Linked DNA regions of Homo sapiens. The protein of the gene in region 3 interacts with the protein of the main gene of each other region in a pairwise test. Each region holds a gene or a part of one and is shown on either strand. Other genes may lie near its edges. The genes, in order: CCK, FLNA, WBP1L, PRPF40A, PIAS4, SGTA and CASP6.

What was found.
Region 1: the proteins of WBP1L (region 3) and CCK interact in binary tests that used the Homo sapiens proteins (3 or more experiments, as listed by UniProt).
Region 2: the proteins of WBP1L (region 3) and FLNA interact in binary tests that used the Homo sapiens proteins (3 or more experiments, as listed by UniProt).
Region 4: the proteins of WBP1L (region 3) and PRPF40A interact in binary tests that used the Homo sapiens proteins (3 or more experiments, as listed by UniProt).
Region 5: the proteins of WBP1L (region 3) and PIAS4 interact in binary tests that used the Homo sapiens proteins (3 or more experiments, as listed by UniProt).
Region 6: the proteins of WBP1L (region 3) and SGTA interact in binary tests that used the Homo sapiens proteins (3 or more experiments, as listed by UniProt).
Region 7: the proteins of WBP1L (region 3) and CASP6 interact in binary tests that used the Homo sapiens proteins (3 or more experiments, as listed by UniProt).

Annotation. Positions count from the first base shown.
Region 1 is NC_000003.12:42,257,326-42,260,255, forward strand, and holds the end of CCK (cholecystokinin preproprotein), read right to left. Parts: intron 907-2,930; coding exon 773-906; 3' UTR 501-772; downstream 1-500. UniProt on the Homo sapiens protein: This peptide hormone induces gall bladder contraction and the release of pancreatic enzymes in the gut. Its function in the brain is not clear.
Region 2 is NC_000023.11:154,364,635-154,368,134, reverse strand, and holds part of FLNA (filamin-A), read left to right. Parts: intron 1-44; coding exon 45-293; intron 294-396; coding exon 397-494; intron 495-590; coding exon 591-738; intron 739-1,284; coding exon 1,285-1,403; intron 1,404-1,495; coding exon 1,496-1,573; intron 1,574-1,664; coding exon 1,665-1,827; intron 1,828-1,910; coding exon 1,911-2,111; intron 2,112-2,648; coding exon 2,649-2,786; intron 2,787-2,875; coding exon 2,876-2,999; intron 3,000-3,177; coding exon 3,178-3,314; intron 3,315-3,415; coding exon 3,416-3,500. UniProt on the Homo sapiens protein: Promotes orthogonal branching of actin filaments and links actin filaments to membrane glycoproteins. Anchors various transmembrane proteins to the actin cytoskeleton and serves as a scaffold for a wide range of cytoplasmic signaling proteins.
Region 3 is NC_000010.11:102,799,448-102,802,947, reverse strand, and holds part of WBP1L (WW domain binding protein 1-like isoform 1 precursor), read right to left. Parts: intron 1-3,500.
Region 4 is NC_000002.12:152,675,962-152,679,461, reverse strand, and holds part of PRPF40A (pre-mRNA-processing factor 40 homolog A), read left to right. Parts: coding exon 1-110; intron 111-352; coding exon 353-406; intron 407-1,986; coding exon 1,987-2,011; intron 2,012-2,682; coding exon 2,683-3,057; intron 3,058-3,500.
Region 5 is NC_000019.10:4,014,236-4,017,735, forward strand, and holds part of PIAS4 (E3 SUMO-protein ligase PIAS4), read left to right. Parts: intron 1-3,500.
Region 6 is NC_000019.10:2,756,745-2,759,273, reverse strand, and holds part of SGTA (small glutamine-rich tetratricopeptide repeat-containing protein alpha), read left to right. Parts: coding exon 1-17; intron 18-1,491; coding exon 1,492-1,581; intron 1,582-1,816; coding exon 1,817-1,931; 3' UTR 1,932-1,937; intron 1,938-2,529. UniProt on the Homo sapiens protein: Co-chaperone that binds misfolded and hydrophobic patches-containing client proteins in the cytosol. Mediates their targeting to the endoplasmic reticulum but also regulates their sorting to the proteasome when targeting fails.
Region 7 is NC_000004.12:109,690,787-109,693,445, forward strand, and holds part of CASP6 (caspase-6 isoform alpha precursor), read right to left. Parts: intron 224-2,659; coding exon 64-223; intron 1-63.

The DNA.
Region 1 (2,930 bases), on a different chromosome or scaffold from region 3:
TGCTAGAGTGATGAAGGTCCCGATAGCCTAGGAACATTAAGCCCTCCAGTCTGTGAATCTCCTTAGCTGGGGCATAAGGGGCAGTCACTTTCACTCTTCAGAGCCTGTTTCCTCATCTGTAAAGAAAGGATGATAACTTCTGTGCCACAGAGCCATGGAGTGATCAAATGTATGCAAAACCATGGCCAGTTACTGCCTGTAACTTGTTTAAAGGCCAAGAGAACCCCAAGGAAACCCTGATGGGAGTAGGATTGGTAAATAAGATCGGGGATCAGGGTGGCCAGGGCTGGGCTCTGGAGTTGCCCACAGATGGCCCTTTCACTGTCCACCTGGCCTGTAGCAAAGTTAGCTCCAAGTCTGAGCTGCATTTCCCAAGCCCTTTCTGGGGACATCTACTACAAGGATTTGTCCCAGTGTAGCATCTATCAGGCTTCCCTCCTTGCATGTTCTGAGGACCAAATGGAGCCCTTTGCCCTCAGTAGACGCAGGGAACGACAGGGCAGAATGAAATCACTTTAATAGCATAACAACATTTTCAGACCAGGAGTCACAGATGAAGAAAACATTTTGTCTTCCATTTGCACAATTCTGGTGAGGTGTGTGGTTGCACTGGACAATCTTACAGACACATTTTTCACATTGAGAACTTAATAAATAGATACATACAATGTCAAACTCCACAGACAATGAGTTATGAGTGTGATTGTTTTCTTATTCTGCCTCCTCTGGGTTGGGAGGTTGCTTCCCGTTGGGCTGATGGCGGCTGGGTCCTCTAGGAGGGGTACTCATACTCCTCGGCACTGCGACGGCCAAAATCCATCCAGCCCATGTAGTCCCGGTCACTTATCCTGTGGCTGGGGTCCAGGTTCTGCAGGTTCTTAACGATGGACATTCGTCCAGAAGGAGCTACAAGGAGCAGGGAGGAAGGAAACAGGGACATTGCATCTAAAAGCATCTCTAGTTCAATTTGGGAAGGAGAGCAATGGAAAAAGCCAGACGCAATATAACAGACACCACCTTAAAGGTATCAAAGAGCTATCAAAGTAGTGGAACTGATGGACCAAAATCTGAGAGAGGAGAAGGACCAATGTCTGTGTAACTGGAGAGAGGACAATATATTTACAAGTTAGGGGTGTGCTTTGCGTTCTGCAAGTATTTAGGTGGATTCATTTTCTCTAGCCTTGCAGTCTGGGGACTTGCCTAGATTTTCCTTAGTCTCCCTACCGTTTGCTTTCTTTTGGTAGATGGGTGTTTTCCTTTTGTAGATGGCATCAGCAGAAACCAACCAAAGATTTTTCCAGTACTTAATTGTTCCTAAATTCATCCCTTAATATCCATCAACATTCCTGACTCCTGGAGAGCTCTTGTTATTAAGGTGGCACAATTATAATATCTTGATGTTGGAATGGTTAAAAAAAAATCGTTGGTGGGAGTGTAAATTAGTTCAACCATTGTGGAAGACAGTGTGGCAATCCCTCAAGGATCTAGAACCAGAAATACCATATGACCCAGCAATCCCATTACTGGGTATATACCCAAAGGATTATAAACCATTCTGCTATAAAGACACATGCACATGTACGTTTACTGCAGCACTATTCACAATAGCAAAGACTTGGAACCAATCTAAATGCCCATCAATGATAGACTGGATAAAGAAAATGTGGCACATTTACACCATGGAGTACTATGCAGCCATAAAAAGGATGCGTTCATGTCCTTTGCAGGGACATGGATGAAGCTGGAAACCATCATTCTCAGCAAACTAACACAGGAACAGAAGACCAAACACCGCATGTTCTCACTCATAAGTGGAAGTTGAACAATGAGAATACATGGACACAGGGAGGGGAACATCACACACCAGGGCCTATCGGGGGGTGGGGGTTAGGGGAGGGATAGCATTAGGGGAAATACCTAATGTAGATGACTGGTTGATGGGTGCAGCAAACCACCATGGCATGTGTATACCTATGTAACAAACCTGCATGTTCTGCACATGTACCCCAGAACTTAAAGTATAATAAAAAATAGATAAATAAAGCTCCTTTGCTACATAAATACTCTTTTAAAAATATGAATTTGAAAGTTATATTCAGAAAGCTTTTGTCATTTATCAGTAAGTGTTTTGAGTTGATGATCATTTTATTTTTAATGATAAATCAATATCAATTAAAAATGATATTCAGAAAAAGACTGTCGGATTAAATCTTGGCACCTCAGTAAGACTCAAAGAAGGGGGGGAGAGAGGTGATAACAAAGGTGATTTAAATCAGCAATTTTGACCAAAATGCAATAACTGAACCTGAAATTGTCCCATTGGGATGGAAGTTAAGTCTTCAGGAACAGTGTGATCCTTTTGTAGAGCTCACACTGAGTGAGCAGGGACATGAAGAGGCAGTTTATTTGGAGACATGAGACAGTCCTAGCTCAAAGTTCATAGACAGAAGCCTCCTGGGGTATGAAATCAGCAGAACACCTTCTCCTGTGCAAGCTCAGTCTTAAGAAAGGCCCTTCAGGGACTTCAATGGACAAAGCCCAGGCCAAATCAAGGGTAGAGGAGTGGAGGACCACTCAATGACTCCCACTGTGTTGGGGGCCACTGTATCCCCACCTCCTGTCATGCTGGTCTATATCCCTTCTGCATGAGGCTGCCCTTGCCAGCTCCTACCCATAGGCTGAGTAGAGTCAGACTATGGCTTATGTGTTGATAAATGAAAATGCAAAGGCAGTTACCCTGGGTAATGAAATTAAGCAAGTTTAATTAAAAACAGAAACAACACAGAACAACGTCCCCACCCTTTCTCTCCCCAACCCCAACCCTTCCCAGTTTTGGAACCAACAGTCAATTCAGCACATTTCAGGTCTTTTTGCAGATATCCTCAGCCTACGTAGAAGAAAAATAGCCCCTGCTATTTAATTGTTCATCA
Region 2 (3,500 bases), on a different chromosome or scaffold from region 3:
CCCGCACAGCCGTGTGCCCAGCGTGGCCACTCTTCTACTCACAGACAGCAAGGCCATCGTGGACGGGAACCTGAAGCTGATCCTGGGCCTCATCTGGACCCTGATCCTGCACTACTCCATCTCCATGCCCATGTGGGACGAGGAGGAGGATGAGGAGGCCAAGAAGCAGACCCCCAAGCAGAGGCTCCTGGGCTGGATCCAGAACAAGCTGCCGCAGCTGCCCATCACCAACTTCAGCCGGGACTGGCAGAGCGGCCGGGCCCTGGGCGCCCTGGTGGACAGCTGTGCCCCGGGTGAGGGGGCGCAGAGGCAGGAGAGACTGGGCTGGGGTCACCCATGGGTGGCCCTTGAGGGGGTTCTGCGGCCCCCAGACTCACAGCCTCCCTTGCGCCACAGGCCTGTGTCCTGACTGGGACTCTTGGGACGCCAGCAAGCCCGTTACCAATGCGCGAGAGGCCATGCAGCAGGCGGATGACTGGCTGGGCATCCCCCAGGTACACCCGCCCGGCCTGGCTACAGCTGTAGGGGACCGGATCGGCAGTTGGGAGAGACTCGGAGGCCCGATGGCTCCTGTTTTCTGCCTGTGACAGGTGATCACCCCCGAGGAGATTGTGGACCCCAACGTGGACGAGCACTCTGTCATGACCTACCTGTCCCAGTTCCCCAAGGCCAAGCTGAAGCCAGGGGCTCCCTTGCGGCCCAAACTGAACCCGAAGAAAGCCCGTGCCTACGGGCCAGGTGAGGGAGCCCCACCAGGGGTGCACCCGTGTGCCAACGTCTTCCCCATAAGACAGTGTCCCATCTAAACGTGGCGGTCCCCAGGGGTCTTGGGTTACATGGCGGCTAGGTGATCAAGCCACCCAAGAGTCAGACAAGAGTGGGTTTTTGGGACTAGTGAAAACGACAAGAGAATGCTAATAGGTTCCTCCAGTCACAGAAGCCTGCTGCGTGGGGTCCTCGGGGAGGTAGCATCCAGCGGTCTTTATTATAAATGGAGATGAACCAGGTCTCAGTAACAGGGACCTAAAACCCAGTCAAGGCTCACACAGGAACAAGGGCCCAGTGCGGTGAGAATGAATGTTCCAGAAAACAGGCTGGGCCTGTCCCAGCAGCGAGAGCACAGCTGGGTCCCGAGGCCAGGCTCTGTGCCACAGCTCACACTGAATGAACTTGCCCAGTTTGGAATGTGCCTGACTTAGGGGCCAGCAGGGAGGGCTGAAGGGTGGAGGGGTGAGGCTGTGGCCTTAACAGCTGGCCCGTGGTTGGCTCGCCTTCCCCTGCCAGGCATCGAGCCCACAGGCAACATGGTGAAGAAGCGGGCAGAGTTCACTGTGGAGACCAGAAGTGCTGGCCAGGGAGAGGTGCTGGTGTACGTGGAGGACCCGGCCGGACACCAGGAGGAGGTAGGGCCAGCTGCTGGCAGCAGAGGCCCCGCAGCGCTCCCTTTCAGTGGGGCTGCTCTTAGCAAAGGCTCACAGGCTCCTTCCCACTGCAGGCAAAAGTGACCGCCAATAACGACAAGAACCGCACCTTCTCCGTCTGGTACGTCCCCGAGGTGACGGGGACTCATAAGGTGAGCCCTTGGCCAGGGGGGAGGCTTGTGACCTCAGGCAGTGGCTGGAGGCCCCCAGCCCTACCCTCACGGCCCACCCTTCTGGGGACAGGTTACTGTGCTCTTTGCTGGCCAGCACATCGCCAAGAGCCCCTTCGAGGTGTACGTGGATAAGTCACAGGGTGACGCCAGCAAAGTGACAGCCCAAGGTCCCGGCCTGGAGCCCAGTGGCAACATCGCCAACAAGACCACCTACTTTGAGATCTTTACGGCAGGTGAGGGGAGGCTGCCAAGGCCCAGCTGGTCTGTGGGGAGAGCCGCACTGGGGCCTGGGAGCTGAGCAGGTGCCTCGTGGCAGGAGCTGGCACGGGCGAGGTCGAGGTTGTGATCCAGGACCCCATGGGACAGAAGGGCACGGTAGAGCCTCAGCTGGAGGCCCGGGGCGACAGCACATACCGCTGCAGCTACCAGCCCACCATGGAGGGCGTCCACACCGTGCACGTCACGTTTGCCGGCGTGCCCATCCCTCGCAGCCCCTACACTGTCACTGTTGGCCAAGGTAGGCCCGGCCCTGACTGCCCTCTGCTGTGGCACTGCAGTCTGGGCCTCCCACAGGAGGGGGACCCCCTGGGCCAGTCCCGCTGCAGCCCGCCCCGGGGCCCCTACTCTTTGAGCTTCTACTGTCTGGGCACATGCTGTTTTTCCTCCCCTGCTGGGGCCCTTCCTCCTCTCCTCTCCTCGCCCCTCTCCATCTCTCTCCTCACGCTTTCACCTTCGGAAGAGCTCGCTCCAGCTGTCTAGAAACCTGCTGCTCTCTGCTCTGCCCACAGGGTCAACGGTACTTGGATCTGTCTTCTTCTTGGAAGGGGGAGGGTGGGGGGCTCTGGGCTGGTGTGGAGCAGGTGGGAGGAGGCCTGCCATGTCCTGGCCCAGGCCACAGTTCCTGGGGTCACAGTCCCTTCCAGTTCTGTCTTGCATGTCCCCCTCCAGCCAAGCTCTGAGGGACCCACCAATCCTGACAGCCCGGCCCTGTGGGAGGCAAGGGAGGGGTCGCCCAGCCGAGCTGCTGGTGCTCAGCTGGCCCCTCTGCCTGCAGCCTGTAACCCGAGTGCCTGCCGGGCGGTTGGCCGGGGCCTCCAGCCCAAGGGTGTGCGGGTGAAGGAGACAGCTGACTTCAAGGTGTACACAAAGGGCGCTGGCAGTGGGGAGCTGAAGGTCACCGTGAAGGGCCCCAGTAAGTTGGCCTGGAGCCAGGCCAGGATGGGTGGCGGCAGCCCCCGGGTTCACTGCTGGGCAGGCCTGAGGCCCTCCTTGTCTTGGCAGAGGGAGAGGAGCGCGTGAAGCAGAAGGACCTGGGGGATGGCGTGTATGGCTTCGAGTATTACCCCATGGTCCCTGGAACCTATATCGTCACCATCACGTGGGGTGGTCAGAACATCGGGCGCAGGTGAGGCCCCCAGGCATCCCTCTCCCAGCTCTGCACACTCTGCCTCTTCTCTTCCTTCTGCCTCCCCACCTGATGATGAGGGGCCACATGGGCTCTTCCTGCCTGGCCGCCACAGTGGGGCCCACGCTGGCTCATGTGGTGATCCTCGGTGTTCCCTGTGTGGCTCTCGCATTTGCAGTCCCTTCGAAGTGAAGGTGGGCACCGAGTGTGGCAATCAGAAGGTACGGGCCTGGGGCCCTGGGCTGGAGGGCGGCGTCGTTGGCAAGTCAGCAGACTTTGTGGTGGAGGCTATCGGGGACGACGTGGGCACGCTGGGTAAGTTGGAGGCTGCAGCATGGGCACCTGGGGACAGACGATGGCAAGGACGGCCCACCCTGAGGCTCCAGGGCACTGAGGGGACTGGTGGCTGTTGTCAGGCTTCTCGGTGGAAGGGCCATCGCAGGCTAAGATCGAATGTGACGACAAGGGCGACGGCTCCTGTGATGTGCGCTACTGGCCGCA
Region 3 (3,500 bases):
AGTATACGCAGAACTATGCCTGATGTATGGTAAGTTCTTAGTGTGTTTATTGTTGTTGTTACAGGCTTAACCATAGATGGGCAGGGTTTCCTTTAAAATTTCCTTTCAATTTCCCTTTTAACCCCCAAAAAGTATTCCATAAAGAAACACAGGGCCCAGTGTGGTGGCTCATGCCTGTAATCCCAGCACTTTGGGAGGCTGAGGCAGGTGGATCACTTGAGGTCAGAATTTGGAGACCAGCCTGGCCAACATGGTGAAACCCCATCTCTACTAAAAATACAAAAATTAGCTGGGCATGCTGGCGCACACCTGTAATTCCAGCTATTTGGGAGGCTGAGGTGGGAGAATCGCTTGGACCTGGGAAGCGAGATCATGCCACTGCACTTCAGCCTGGGCGAGGGAGTGAGACGCTGTCTCAAGAAAGAAAAGGAAAAAAGAAACACAGGTTAGGAACAAGTCCAAAGTCTGCTTTTAGGTTCTGTTCTTGGCACTGGAAATTCAATCAACTCCTATTTACTGAGCTCTTGCTAACAATGGGTATCTTAAGACAAACTAAAAACAAAACAAAAAAAAACGGCAGGTAAAAAACGAAGCTTGGGCAACATGGCGAAACCTTATCTCTACAAAAAAATACAAAAATTAGATGGGCATGGTGGCACATACTCATAGTCCCAGCTACTTAAGTGGCTGAGGCAGGAGGATCCCTTGAGTCCAGGAGGTTAAGGCTGCAGTGACCAAAGATCATACCACTACACTCCAGCCTGGGTGATAGAGTGAAACCTTGTCTCACACACACAAAAAGAGGAAGGAAGGAAGGAAGGAAGGAAGGAAGGAGAAGGTGGAAGGAGGAGGGGGAAGGGGGAAAGGGAAAGGCTGGGGGAAGGGTAGGGGAGGGTGGAGGAAGGGGAGGGGAGGGTGGGGGGAAGGGTGGGAAGGTGGGGGAGGGGTGGCAGGGTGGGGGAAGGGTGGGGGTGGGGGGAAGGGTAGGGAAGGGTGGGAGGGAGGGGGGAGGAAAAGTGGGGAGGGAGGGGAGAGGAAGAGTGGAGAGGGAGGGGAGAGAGGAGGAGGGAGATGGGAGGGAGGGAAAGGAAAGAGAGAGAGAAAGAAAAAAAGAGAGAGAATAAAAAATGAAAAACGAGTTGGGCAGCACTGACAGGATTTGCTAATAGCCTGTTTTGTGTCACTTCAGGGAAATTCCACTGTCCAGAAACATACCCCTCTCCCTCCTAAAGCCCAAACCAGGGGAAACTGATGCCTGGGTGAAATTCTCCCAAATGATCTCAAGGGCAGAAATTCCCAACTTTGATCTCTCCCTGGAAAATGTAGCTTGCTGAGTGGAGAGAGCCCCAGGATGAGAACAGGGAGGAGTGGCTTTGGGGTTTGGGCCAATGCACATCCTATCCCCTCCCCGCTGGATTACCTTCTGAAGGTAAGAATTCTGTCTCTCCAGTTTCCAGCCCAGAGGAGGTCACAGCATCAACTAGGAACTTGTTACAATTGCACATTCTCAGGTTTTTAAATTCTCAGTTTTGAATCAAAAGCTCTGGGAGTAGGGCCCAGAAGTGTGTGTTTTCGGTAGCCCTTCAGGAAATTCTGATGCCTGCTAAAGTTCAAGAGCACTGGAATAAGGGTTTGCTGAATGAATAACTGATGGAATGATGAATTAAAGTACAGGTGCCGTAAAAATGCATGGAGATAATACTAACAACGATCAGGTCCTTAATAGCCTCAACTACTGCCCCTATTAAACAGGATCTGCCGTTCTCAACACATGCAGGCCCAATAACTGGTTTGGGTTATGAAACATTGAAAAGACATGTGGGAAAGGTTGCCGGCCAGAGCTCAGGTCTATGTGTGCTTGTGTGTCTGTGTAAACCGTGTGTGTGTGTAAGTATGTGTGTGAGAATTGAGAATTTTCCTCAGCACACAGGAAAATGCAGTTTAGTAGAGGTAAAGGGTGGGTAGAAATGGCATTTTTTCCCGGAGGCCTTTCCTGTAGGCAACTATAGTTAAGGAGTTGCCCTGTCTGATGAAAACTCTGCCAAAGGATTTCCTGGCTGAGGAATTTTCTTTCCAAAGGAAGGTGGGAAGGAAATCAGCCCAAAGCCCGTGACTTTCACACTTCAGGCAAAGTTGAGAGGCAGTTAGAGGGAACAGGGTTGAAAGCAACAAAAAGTGCCATTTTGATGAGAACTTCAGGTGTTTGTTCCAACATCAACCTCCCTCCCATACACACCAGGCAGAAGCCATGACCTCAATAAAGAGGGAGATCGGAGGACTTCCTGAGAAGGGCGTTTTGCTTTTATGTCTCCCATGCCTCCAGAACGTGGAAAACACATGCCAGCTCATTTAACGGGGCACCTTTTCTCTCCGTCTAGACACTGCTCTCTGCTGGGCCTCCTTTCCTAAACGCCCGTAGCTAGAGAGACACTTAGCCGTTCATGCAGCTCTTTCTCTGACTTTCTTTAAGCCCTTGGGGTGAGGCACCTGCTTTCCCAGACTACCTCCTTGCCCTCTGGGTCTCCCTGTCCCCACCACTCCACCCCCCTGCCCTGGCTTTGGTGACCCAATTCAGGTGGCTCCTGAGTCGGCTCTGCCAAAAGCCCAGGAGGCTCTGTCAATCTGAGACGGGGCCATGAGCAACTTCGTTCCTTTTCACAACTGATGCCGCCTGGCCAGGACCCAGAAAAACAAACTACAGCTCTGTGGCTTTTTGGCAGCCCAGCTTCAACTTTTGTTTTAACAAAGGGTGGGAAGGAGAATTTGAACCCTGTGGTTATCTGCATTTTAAAACATTTAAACAGAGTCTGTCTACCTGCTTGGCACTGTGTGTCCTCTAGTAAGTTTCTCAGCCCCACCCCTTCTAAAATAGCAACAATGACTGTGCCCTCCTTCACTGCTGCTTATATATCTGCAGGTCTGGTGGGGACATCTTGAGCCTTGTGCTCTCCTGCACTGGACTGCTCCTGGAATTCCTCAGAAAGGCAGATGAGCCCGTCCTCAGTCCTCAAAAGGGAAAAGCGAGGGTGAGGGAGAGGTCTTGTTTGGAGGAACCACTCCTGTTGGCTACAAATACAACTGCATTTCAGATGGACAGACCTCCCAGCCAAGAGTCTAATTTCCTTTCTGGACCAAACAATAGTCCTTCTGGCTGCTTTCTTGCCATATCACTGACACAGGGGTTGATGGGGGGGATGAGAAAGGGGAAAGGCGCAGATAGGATGGTGGGGGCAAGGTCATGGTTTGACAAACCCGAAGTCTGTTTCCAAATGGAGGCAGTGATGAGGGCTTAGAATCATCTGGGGAAACCGCCTGCAGTCTCCTTTCTCAAGAGACAATTGTAAGAACTACGGCAATGTCAGTCACCTGGGGCCTCGCTGTCCTAAGCACCACCCCCCCAACACCCTCTCATTCTTTGTCCAGCATCCTACACTGTCTCGTCTGAGTTCCAGGAAGGTCAGAGTACAAAGAGTGTCAGTTGAAGCAACCTTGGGTCACTC
Region 4 (3,500 bases), on a different chromosome or scaffold from region 3:
TAAATGCCCCTGGAAGGAATACAAATCAGATTCTGGAAAGCCTTACTATTATAATTCTCAAACAAAAGAATCTCGCTGGGCCAAACCTAAAGAACTTGAGGATCTTGAAGGTAAAATGGGGAAAAGTAGTTTTCAATGTATATGTTTTACATATATATGCCATTCACTTTGAAACAATTCCTCCAGAATAGGATTGTTCAAACAAAGGCCTTATTTTTTTTTTTAATTAAATGATTAGAACATTTAAAATGGCGTATAACAGTTTTTTGGGCTCTTATTTTCTTGTTGCTTTAGATCTCAGTTCTGTAGATTTTAAATAGATTTTTATTTGATTTGATTCCACTGAAACTAGGATACCAGAATACCATTGTTGCTGGAAGTCTTATTACAAAATCAAACCTGCATGGTGAGCTGCTTTGATAATTCATTTTCTGTCATACTTAACATTTTTATTAGAGTATGTCACTAATATTCACTAACCATAATTGGATAAATCTGCAGTGAAAAATCTCTAAGAATTCTTTTCATTAAAGGGTTATATTATAAATGAGCTTGTAGCTTTTAAAGTCGTACTTTGGTTTTTAGAAAAAAGATCGTTTATCATTCAATTGAACAAGGAGTTCATATACAAAATTTCCAAGTCCTACTATGAGTGGTGCATACATAGAACATGTGTTTTAACTCATTTCATGGTAATAGATAGTGGAGAACCTTGAATCTGTATCCATTTATATTTTGTTAGTATATTGTCAGACTATATATTTAATGCTAGTTTTGTTTAGCACAGTGTTGCAAAATAGCCTTGATATGTTCTTTATGGAAGAATTAAGGTAAACCAAGTATCATGCCTTACTTATAAAGGGAAAATTTTTCAACATTGGAACTAATCAGAATAACCCTTAAAAATCTAGAAATACTTAATACTAAATATAAAACCTAAGACTTAAAATAGAGATAATAAGTAAGGATTGAAAATCTAGTTTTTATACTCACTTCTAATAGAATCTAGTGTCATAAATTATACAAAACTAGAAGCAGCAGATTGTAGGAGAATGGGGCTAATAAAGTAGATAGTGATGTGGAATGACATCTGGCAGGAAAAGAGAATAAAAATTTCCTAAAAGACTGTCATATTAAGCCCCTTTACCTTTTCCTTGTGCCACCTCATTAGATAGATAGATCATCATTGTATCAGAAAAATGTTAATTTATATTATTAATGATAACTTTGTAAGTATGTTTTTTCAGCCATCCTAAACAGATTTTCAGAAATGTTTTTCTTTAAAGGGTGATAAGTTTTAAAAATTTTTTTTATAAAGAGTTAGGCTTGTATTATTACTTAATGTGGAGAACCTCATTCCCTAGTAATGTTAAATAAAAGGTATTTTTGTTACATCCAAAGGAAAATGTACTGGAATGAAAAATGAAATTGTGCAGATCTTTAAAGCTCAGTTTAAGTTACCTATACTAGCATTGGCTAATAATAATATTGTAGATAGGTAGATTCCCAGTTGATCATTTATGAATTATCAAGCTCATTTCTGATATAACCCTACTACAAATAGTTGGTGTGCGTAACTATCTATCTACTTGTCAATGCTAGTATATATGTGCTGGAATTTTATAATAAATTTGATCCCATTTTGAATTTAGTATCTTAAAAATATATCAAACTAGTCTCATCCCTGAAGAAAATACAGTTTTCATCCAGAATTATGCAGATACTTTCATAGAGTTGTTGCAGCAGCCTTTGGGAAAGCAGCAGCATGGAATAAGCTTTCCTAGTAATTACTGTTATTTAAGTTTGTTGTATTCTTTATTTGCTATACTAGACTTTCGGAGCAAGAATTTGTTCTGTAAAAGTGATTTTTTATTTTTTAGGATGGTAAATGAAATCCTATTGTATGATACTTTATCTTCTTTTAAAGTTTGTTTTCAGTGATTATATTTTAAAACTAGTAGATGACTTTTTTTCTCTCTTTAATAGCAATGATCAAAGCTGAAGAAAGCAGGTAAGCAATTTTGGACATCAATTTTTATTTACAAATTTGGTCTCTCCTATGATATCCTTGTGTTTTCTCAATTTTCATAATACAAATAATTAACATGTTAGGCTTGATATTTTGATGTCCTTGTAGCATTTTGTTGAGGAAAAATTAGGGAGGGGGATATTTACTCAATTTGATGTTTTGCTATACAGTAATTATTAGAATTTGGACTGTATCCCTTAACAAATTAAGAAGACTGTGTTACAGAAGAGTCCCAAATTCCGTTTGAGTTGATTAGGGAATGGACGAAATATATCTGTGTATCTCTTCCTTTATATAGGGTTTCCTCTAAATGGGCAAACTGGAGAAAATTTAAAGTTCTTAGAGAACTTTCTAATACAGGTCATTTTTCGTGGTGTAAATACAGTCTGATAGATTGGGTATTTTATAAATGTGAACGCTTACTGAACTTTTGAGTGCCTGTAATACATTACCATGAATGTTAACGGAATTAAAGTAGTACAGTTACATTCTGTGGTTTTAAAATCTTTTTTAATGGGCTTGGCATTTCTTGCCGTTTTTTCCTTCAATTATTTTTCTTATTATTTGATTTTATGACCATTTTAAAGCTACCTTTATTTAGCTTTCTGATTACAATAATGAAATGACCAGTGTTCTCTTTTTTTAATGTATAGTAAGCAAGAAGAGTGCACCACAACATCAACAGCCCCAGTCCCTACAACAGAAATTCCGACCACAATGAGCACCATGGCTGCTGCCGAAGCAGCAGCTGCTGTTGTTGCAGCAGCAGCAGCGGCAGCAGCAGCAGCAGCTGCAGCCAATGCTAATGCTTCCACTTCTGCTTCTAATACTGTCAGTGGAACTGTTCCAGTTGTTCCTGAGCCTGAAGTTACTTCCATTGTTGCTACTGTTGTAGATAATGAGAATACAGTAACTATTTCAACTGAGGAACAAGCACAACTTACTAGTACCCCTGCTATTCAGGATCAAAGTGTGGAAGTATCCAGTAATACTGGAGAAGAAACATCTAAGCAAGAAACTGTAGCTGAGTAAGTTTAGTAACTTGTCTTCTGAAAATCAGTACCAGATTGCATTAAATAAAAGTAATTGCCAGTTTAGTTAGTGGCCATTAATAGTTTAAATAAATTTTTTTGAGAATCGTAATATCACCGTTAAGACAGTTGATCAGTTTTCAGGCCGAATTTTGGAGGGTTATGCCAGCAAACTTGAAAAATAGTTCAGTGAAATTTTAACAAGTAGAGCCAAGGCTAGGGAGTTGGGGCACAAATCTAAAAGATTGCCAAAAACCTTAGTAAGCAAGATACATCATATTTTGATGCAATATTTTACATCAGATCAGTGCAAAAATTCATGATTAACAAACTATCAGTATTTTCAGTTAAGACAGGTGTATTGTTTCTTCTTTGGTTATTGGTGTTTTGGGTTTCAACCTCCTATAAATCAGTTAAAAAAATACAGCTTTGTAGAAAAA
Region 5 (3,500 bases), on a different chromosome or scaffold from region 3:
CTGAGCAGGAACTGTGTGTCAGGACCTCATAGCCCACAGCAGTGTGGACAGGCCCCTGGTGCCTCCCCAGCAGCCGTGGCCATTCAGGCTGCAGGTGGGCATTGAGCCCAGTCTCTGCCTCAGCCATAGCCCTGAGCTCAGGGCCAGGGAGGCCTCCGCAGCCCCAGCCCCCAGGGCAGAGAGAGTGTGCAGCCTCTGGGACTCCCAGATAGGGAGCGGAACGTCCTGGGCCTTTGCGGACCTGTGCCTTGAGGCGCTCAGATTTCACCAAGTCCTCTGTGTGCCTGGAGGTCTCTCCGTCTCTTCTTCCTGCCTCCCCTCCCCTGCCCCCACTCTTTCCTTCGCACAGTAAACATCGGAGCGCCTGCTGGGTGGGTGCGTGATGGGCACCAGGCGTGGGCACGCAGCAGGGAACAGGACCAAGGCCACGAGGTTCAGAACCCTGTGCATGCCCCCTCCCACCCTGCTGACCCAGCAACCTGCCTGGCCCCTGCTGTGGCCTGAGGGCCCTTCTCTGGCACGCTTCAGTCCATTGGGTGCCAGCTGGCCCCCGCTCCCCTGCCCAGGGAGGCAGCGTTGATGGGGGTAGGGGGAAGGGGAACTGGCTGCTTTTCCCCTCCCATCTGCAGCCCTGGGACTTAGTGAGGTTAGGCTGGAGGGGCTGTGCTTCCAGGTGAGGATGGAGGAAGTGGAGGAGGGAGGAAGGTGCTGTCGGTGGTTCCTGCGGCAGCCGAGGCTCCTCCCTCCAGCCTGAGGCTCCGCCTTCCAAGTGAGGCTCCGCCTCCACCTTTTTTCTCTTGCAGGAGGTGTCTAGCAGCAGCCTCCTGGGGAGCAGGTTGGCCCAGTGGCACCTGTCCTGGGGGACTCAGGGTCTTGGCCTGAGTTCCATCGGACTGACTTTCCCAGCCTTTGCTCTCTCATGAGGGAAGCTGTTCCCCCTGCCAGGTTCTTGGGCAGAGCTGGCTGTCTCTGAAGGTTGGGCCTTGGGAAGGACCTGCATCACAGGGAGGCTGGGCTTTCCTGGGAGCGGCAGGGCAGGCTTGGTCCAGGGCGGGGGACGGGGCTGACCAGCTTCCTTCCTGCACGGGGACCAGTAGCTCCGTCCCACAATACATCGCTGTGCCCTGAGCCACCAGGGACCCCGGTCACCTGATCTCCGGGAGAGCCTGCTCCCCTGTCTACACCAGTGTGCCTGTGCTGGCGGCTCAGAACAAAGAGGCCATCCCCACCCTGCCTCTCTCTCCCACTGGCTCTCTCTCCATCTCAGGCCGCCAGGTGAACCTCCTTTCCTGGATTCCGTGCTCTTGGGGGACTCCCTGGGGGCCACCTCGGTCCTCAGAAGTTTCCTGGAGCATAGCCCCTGGCCCCGAAGCAGTGGTCCCCATGGTTTTAGGACCTGAGATGCCATCTGTCCGCCCTGACCCTGGGCTGTGTCCCTCCCCAGGGTGCACTCTGTGGTGCTGGCCTTGCCCGGGGGCCGCCTCCGGAGGACCCAGTTCCACCGGCTTCTCCCTCACTCCCTCCTCTGGCTGTGACCCACCGTCCAGCGTGAGGCCCACCGCTCTGGTCTGTTTCCCCGGAATAGCCGCCGGCCGGCTCCAGGATGGAGACCGCGCCAGGCGGACAGGAGCCATAAATCACGCGGTGCGGAATGCTGGGCTGGGGGAGGGGGTGACAGAGCCACAGAGCAGGCTGCAGGGGCCTCAGGCTGTAGGTGATCGGCTCCAGTGGGAGGTGCCGTGTGTGGGGACGGGGCTGGCACCCAGAACAGTGCGGAGAACGGCCCAAGGTCGCACAGCGGCCTGCCTTCCCTCCTCCCGAGCCGACTGGCTCCTGCTCCTGAGCAGAGGCTCTGGCCTGGACCTCTGCAGGCTGGGAACCCTGTCCTGCCTGTCGGCAAGGAAGCCGGCGCCACCCCTTTCCAGCCTGCGCCACCTGGGGAGTCCGGCTAGGGAGCCTGACCCTCCTGTCAGGGTACTTGGGAAGAGAGGCTGTCAGGAAATGTGGGGCAGAAGGAAGGATACATGCTGGCCGGGCACAGAGCTGCTCCTCCAGGGTCTTGGCCCGCAGCGGGCACCCCGAGGAATCTGCCTGCCCACCCGCCTGCTGTGCAGAGTGGAGCCCCTGTCACCACGACTCCAGATGCCCCCAGAGGCAGATAGCCCTGGTACCAGCCAAGAGCCGCCGGTCTGGCATGTGCTGTGCTGTGTGTAGGCACCTGTGCCCTTCAGCCTCTGAAGCCCTTGGGCCAGCATTGCCCAGGCCACAGCAAGGTAGCGTGGTCCCTGCTCAGGTGCAGCACAGAAGTGCCAGGTGATAAGTCTCATGGCACACGGAGGGCTTTCAGGGGCAGCTGTCAGTAGCAGGAGCCATTTACTCTACATTTGTGAGGAGGTAGCAGTCAGGAAGGCCTCCTGGAGGCAGCAGCGTTTCAGTCCAGACCCGAGGGTGACTCTCAAGAAGCCAGGCAGAGAGGAGGGGGCAGGGGAGCGTATTCCAGGCAGAGGGCAGTGAGGGCAGAGGCCGATGGCCAGAGAGGGCTCATTCATGGGGCTGAATGGAGTTCATTGTGGCCAGAACATGGTGCGCCCAGGAGGAGGGACGCAGTAGCCTGGGCGCGGGCGGCAGAGGCTGGAACCCGAGAATGGTGGGCCCGGGGAAGGCTGGGGGCTACCCTGCTTGCCCCGAGGGCTTCAGCGCCCCTGAGGTTCTGGTATGATTTTTGGGGTCAGTGAGGAAACTGAAGTGCAGGAGGCAAGTGGCCGTCTGCCTTCCACAGCCAGGCCTGCTGCCCGCCCAGGCCCACCATCTGTCCGTCTGCACACTGGGGGCCTGGATGGGCACGGAGCGTCCTGTGTCACTGTCCCACATGTGGGGTAGTCTGACCCACTCAGCCCGCTGGCACTTCCCATACCTGTGGTTGGGGAACAGGGGGACTCCGCCAGCTCTGCCCCAGGTCTTGGCCTTCAGGTTGAAGAGGAGGGATGGGCCCACTGCTACCAGATGGGGGGCTGCCAGCAGCCACCCCCATGTCCCGCTAGTCCTTCTCCCATCCCCTGTGGCCCCCTGCCCTGCCCAGCCCAGCTCCCCAACCTGCCCGCTGGCTGCAGCCTCCTGCTCTGCTTCCTGCCCACTGGTCCCCCTCCCATGGCAGCCTGTGAATGTTTTCACTGATGGGTAGAGTGGTCGGCATCACCCCTGTGCCTAGCCAGGGGCACCTGTTCCCCGCCCCTCCAGGACAGTGCCCCCTGTGTCCCTCATACCTGACTGTGCTGCCTCTACTCTTGATCTGGGGGACCTGGGTTGGGGAATCAGTGCTGGTAGCTCTTAGCTGGACAGGGTGGGTCCGGGAGTTAGAGAACTTGTATGTGCCGGGGAGGGGACAGCCTGGGGAGGGGGCCAGCACATGGGCCAGCTGGAGGGGGAATGGTCCCATCCGATCAGCTTTTTTTTTTTTTTTTTTTGAGATGGAGTCTGACTGTCGCCCGTGCTGGAGTGCA
Region 6 (2,529 bases), on a different chromosome or scaffold from region 3:
CCCCAGATTCAGCAGCTGTAAGTGACAACCGGGTTTCTTCGGGTCTTGTTGTGGTTAAATTTCCTTTTATTGTGGGTAAATTCACTTAACATAAAACTAACCACTTTAAAGTGTGCAACTTAATGGCATTAAGGACTTTCACACTGTCATGCAACTGTCACCACTATCACACTGTCATGCAACTGTCACCACCATCACACTGTCATGCAACTGTCACCACCATTGAGCACCAACCCATCTTCATCACCTCCGAAAGAAGCCCCTTCCCCCTCAGCTGTCACTCCCCAACCCCTCTCCTATCCCCTGACAACCACGCATCCCCTTCCTGTCTCTGTGGATGGGCCTGTCCTGGACATTTCGTAGAAATGGGATCACACACTGCGTGAACTTTGGTGTCTGGCGTCTCTCACTGAGCGTGACGTCCTCAAGGTGCATGTGTGCTGGGGCCTGGGTCAGGGCCTCGCTCCTTTTCATGGCTGAGTAATATTCCAGTGTGGAGGGACCACGCTGTGCTGATCCACACATCTATCCATGGACATTTGGGCTGTTTCTACCTTTTGTCTGTTGTGAACGGTGCTGCTTGAGCACGGGTGTGCAATCGTCTGTGTGAATCCTGTTTTCGTTTCTCTTGGATATAAACTTCTGAGTGCACTCGCTGGCTCATAGGGTCACTCCCCAGTAAGCGCTGTGCGCACTGGGGAGCTGCTCACCTGTTTTCATGGTGAAATCTTTTTTTCTTTCTCCTTTTTTTTTTTTTGAGACAGAATCTTGCTCTGTCACCCAGGCTGGAGTGCAGTGGCAGAATCTTGGCTCACTGCAACCTCTGCCTCCCGGGATCAAGTGGGTCTTCCCAAGTAGCTGGAATTACAGGCATCCACCACCATGCCCGGCTGATTTTTGCATTTTTAGTAGAGATGGGGTTTCACCATGTTGGCCAGGCTGGTCTTGAACTCCTGACCTCAGGTGATCCACCCGCCTCAGCCTCCCAAAGTGCAGGGATGACAGGTGTGAGCCACCGCGGCTGGCCCACGGTCAAATCTTAAAGCATGGTTTCCCAGCCACAGCACCGTGGCCATTTGAGCTGGACCAGTTTCTGGAGCAGGGCCGTCCTGGGCACTGCAGGGTGCTGAGCACTGTCTCTAGCCTCCATCCACTCCATGCCAGGAGCACCCCCTGCCCCTGTCTTGGCGTAACCCAATCATGGCTGTTGCAAATGTCCGCTGCCATTGCAGGGGTCCTCTGGGGGCAGGATCACCCCCTGGCTGAGAACTACGCTCTTTAGGCCAAAGAAAGAGGGGTGTTCTGGGAAAGCAGGTGAAAGTCACAGGGTGGGTTTGGGCCCTGGAGGCCCACCAGGTGGTGAGAGAGAATCCTCTCCTGCAGGGGAAGGTGAAGGGCTGAGAGGGATTCTCTCCCGGGCCACTGCGAGGGCCTGCAGTGGGGGTGGCGGTCAGGCTGTCCCGGCTGCGAGTCACGCGCTCTCTCCTGCAGCATGTCCGGCATGATTTCGGGTGGCAACAACCCCTTGGGAACTCCCGGCACCAGCCCCTCGCAGAACGACCTGGCCAGCCTCATCCAGGCGTGAGTGGAACTGCTTCCAAGAGGACGGAGGACGTGGGCGGCGGGCAGGGCTCGCAGGCGGAAGGGAAGGAGGAGAGCGAAAGTGCTGCGTCCCCTGCTCCGAAGGGCCCAGCGTCCTCCAGCGAGGGGTCAGGCCTGTCTTTGGGGTGGAGGGCCCGAGGGGTCAGCTGGGGATGGACGGAGGCAGCAGGCAGCCTCCTGGCCCTGGCTGAGCCCCATGTGCCCTTCCCCGCAGGGGCCAGCAGTTTGCCCAGCAGATGCAGCAGCAGAACCCAGAGTTGATAGAGCAGCTCAGGAGCCAGATCCGGAGTCGGACGCCCAGCGCCAGCAACGACGACCAGCAGGAGTGACGCTGCGTGAGTGCATGGGGCCGGGGGCTGGGGGGTGGCCAGCAGGAGTGACACCACGTGAGTGCCTGGCAGTGAGGGCAGCCAGCAGGAGTGACGCCCGGGGGCTGTGGAGCCTGTCTGGACACTGGACAGCGAGTCCTGGGTGCATCCAGCTCAGAAGATCACCCTGAACCGCCCAGGCAGGTGGGGGCATCTCTGGGCATTGGGCCCCTTTCCAGGTGGCCACCAAGTCCTGCTCCCCACTCCTTTCCCATCTGTGGATCGGCGCTGGGTGGAGATTAGGGGAGAGCCACAGCTCCCTGGAAGGGCTGGTGTCTGGGGTCCCCCCTGCCTAAGGCCGCCTGCAGAAGCTCTTTGTTTCTGCAGTGTCGGGGCTGCCACCTCGGGGGTGGGGGCGAGGTCATCGAGTGGTGGAAAGGACAAGCCGGGTACCTGCCTTTGACTGCGCCCGAGCGTTCTGCCTGCATTTTGTGAGGGATTTTTTGTCCTTTTCTCACTGTGAGCAGGTGTTGCACTTACAGTTGTTTAAAAATACACTCAGTGTCCCCCATGGGTTCCAGGGGCCCGTGGCTGGCTTGGTTTCCTTCCCCAGGGGCCC
Region 7 (2,659 bases), on a different chromosome or scaffold from region 3:
GGTGAAACTTACAGGACCTTAGCCAAGAGAGGCAATTATATGTTTGTTTTAAACACCACACACCTTCTGCAACAGAGTAACACATGAGGAAGTCAGCTCCAGCAGGCAGCGTGTAAACGGAGGCTGCATCCACCTCAGTTATGTTGGTGTCCAACTTCTCTGTCTGATTATCTACTACATCCAAAGGAATGACTGGCACATCGTGCTGGTTTCCCCGACATGCCTACAAGACAAGGAGGAAAAACCCACCTCTTTGCCTACTGTTTCCTTCCCAGTGCTTAATGTGTGCAGTGAATGTGTAAGCCAGTACCCCTTCATTACAACAGAAACCACATTCTGAGCAGTTCAGAAGCAATACATTCAGGTTTGGAGGGCACAAAAGCCAACAAAGTTGTTTCCTTACTTAGGCTTTCTTTTAGTTAATGTTTTAAGAAAAAATTGGCATCCCCAAGTATACATCAAATTATGTTGGTAGAAGGGTATACTGTAGAGGAAAAAGCTTGTGGTTTTAAAATTTCTTACAGATTAACCACACCCAGGGCACACGGTGTTACCTTCCCTTTTGAAAGCTATAGTATTGACCTAAGTGTTTCTGTTTAGGCAGGCAGTGTATTTCCAGATTGACTTTTGCTTGCCTGGCTGCTGCTATAAATTGTTAGGAGTTAAAATGACATCCAGCCTGACCTGAGGAGATACCTACTAATGCACCATCTTCCTTGTGTGCCCATTAAAAAGTGAGGTCTCAAATTTTTACCCACTAATTCTGACTCACTCAGAATTTACATTAAATTTAGACTCATAATTAACATTAAATTCTGACTCACTCAGAGGCTAACATTAAACTCTTCTCATAAGTGACTTTTACAAGCTGAATTGTGTTCCCCAAAAATTCATATGTTGAAGTCCTAGCCCCAATACCTCAACTCTGACTGTATTGGAAGACAGGGCCTTTAGAGGTGATTAAGGAAAATGAGGTCATACGGGTGAAACCAAATCCAACATGACTAGTGTCTTCATAAGAAGAAATTGGGACACAGACATGCACAGAAGAAAGACCATATGAAGGCACAGGGACAAGATGGCCACCTACAAGCCAAAAAGGGAGGCCTCAGAAGAAACCAATCCTCCCCACACGTTCATCTGAGACTTCCAGCTCCAGGACTGTGACGATAAATTCCTGCTGTTTAAACCACACAGTCTGTGGTACTTTGTTATGGTCACCCTATACACGAATACAGCCAGCCAATAAGATTCTGTTGTAGCATTATAAATGCATCAATCAGTTCTGAAATGGTTAAAGAATTATGAGCATCAAAAGAAAGTCCTGAATGATTTCAAATCATAAAATAAATAGAAAATCCCTACTATCCCGTTTTTATAGGCAGATTTTAATCTTCGTATCAGCAGGCTTATTTTCAGGCCTTTTTTCTACTGTCCTTCCTAAATATAACAGAACACCTTTAACCTAATGACATCACCTGCCCAGTCAACTGCAATAAGAGTAAGAGCGAGCCTTTACTGAGGGCGTGCTGTATGCCAGGCACTGTTCTAAGTGGTTTGCATTCATTAAATCAGTCAGGTGATTTTGCCCACACAACCACCCCATGAGGCAGGTGCTCTTTTTACCAAGAATCTAAGGCATAGAGAGAGAAAGTAACTTGGAAAACGATTTCATTTGTGGCTTTCTTCCCACAGTAGCTCATTAGTTATTTCCAATTCTCTTGTGTTTGACAGTGTTGGCCACTCCCCTTTTCACAAAACAATCATGTCATTATTTGTTTCTTGTTTCTCTCCTGGTGTCCATCCTCCTCAGTATCTTCCCTCTTCAGCCCATTCCTCATGGGTGCCCCTCGGTTTTGTTTTATGCTCCTTTTTCAGGCTGTATTCAACACGAGTAAACTCATCTAATCCCATGGCTTCCACGACCACCTCCTGATTTATTTCTCCAGCCGAGGCCACCTGTCTTAGGTTCTACACCTGTATGACCAATTCCATGTCCCACAGACATTCCAATGCAGTTGTCCAAACCAGAAACGAGGCAGTCATTCTTCACTTACAGCCACTTCCTCACCCCAAAACAAGGCTTTATGGTAGGATGCGAAATGCAGTTTCATGTTTGATACGGTTTGAACGTCTGTCCCCTCCAAATCTCATGTTAAAATGTGGTTCCCAGTGTGGGAGGTGAAGCCTGGTGGAAGGTGACTGGATCATCGGGGAGGGTCTCTCATGAATGGTTTAGCATCATCCTCTTGGTGTAAGTGAGCTCCCACTCAGTTCACATGAAATCTGGTTACTTAAGAGAGTCTGGGACCTCTCCCTTGGCACTCTCTTGCTCCCACTCCCAACAAGTCATATGCTGGCTCTCTGTCACCTTCCACCATAATTGTAAGCTTCCTAAGGCCTCACCAGAAGCAGATGCCAGCACCATGCTTCCTGTACAGCCTGCAGAACTGTAGGCCAATCAAATCTCTCTTCCTTATAAATTACCCAGTCTCAGGTCTTTATAGCAATGCAAGAATAGACTAACATAATGTTATTTCATGTCCTCCATGCTATTCATGGAAATACAGAATTGTGACACTGGCATGTCAGGTTTCTCTTTTGTAGTTCAAAATCTTTGGCCGGGCACAGTGGCTCACGCCTGTAATCCCAACACTCT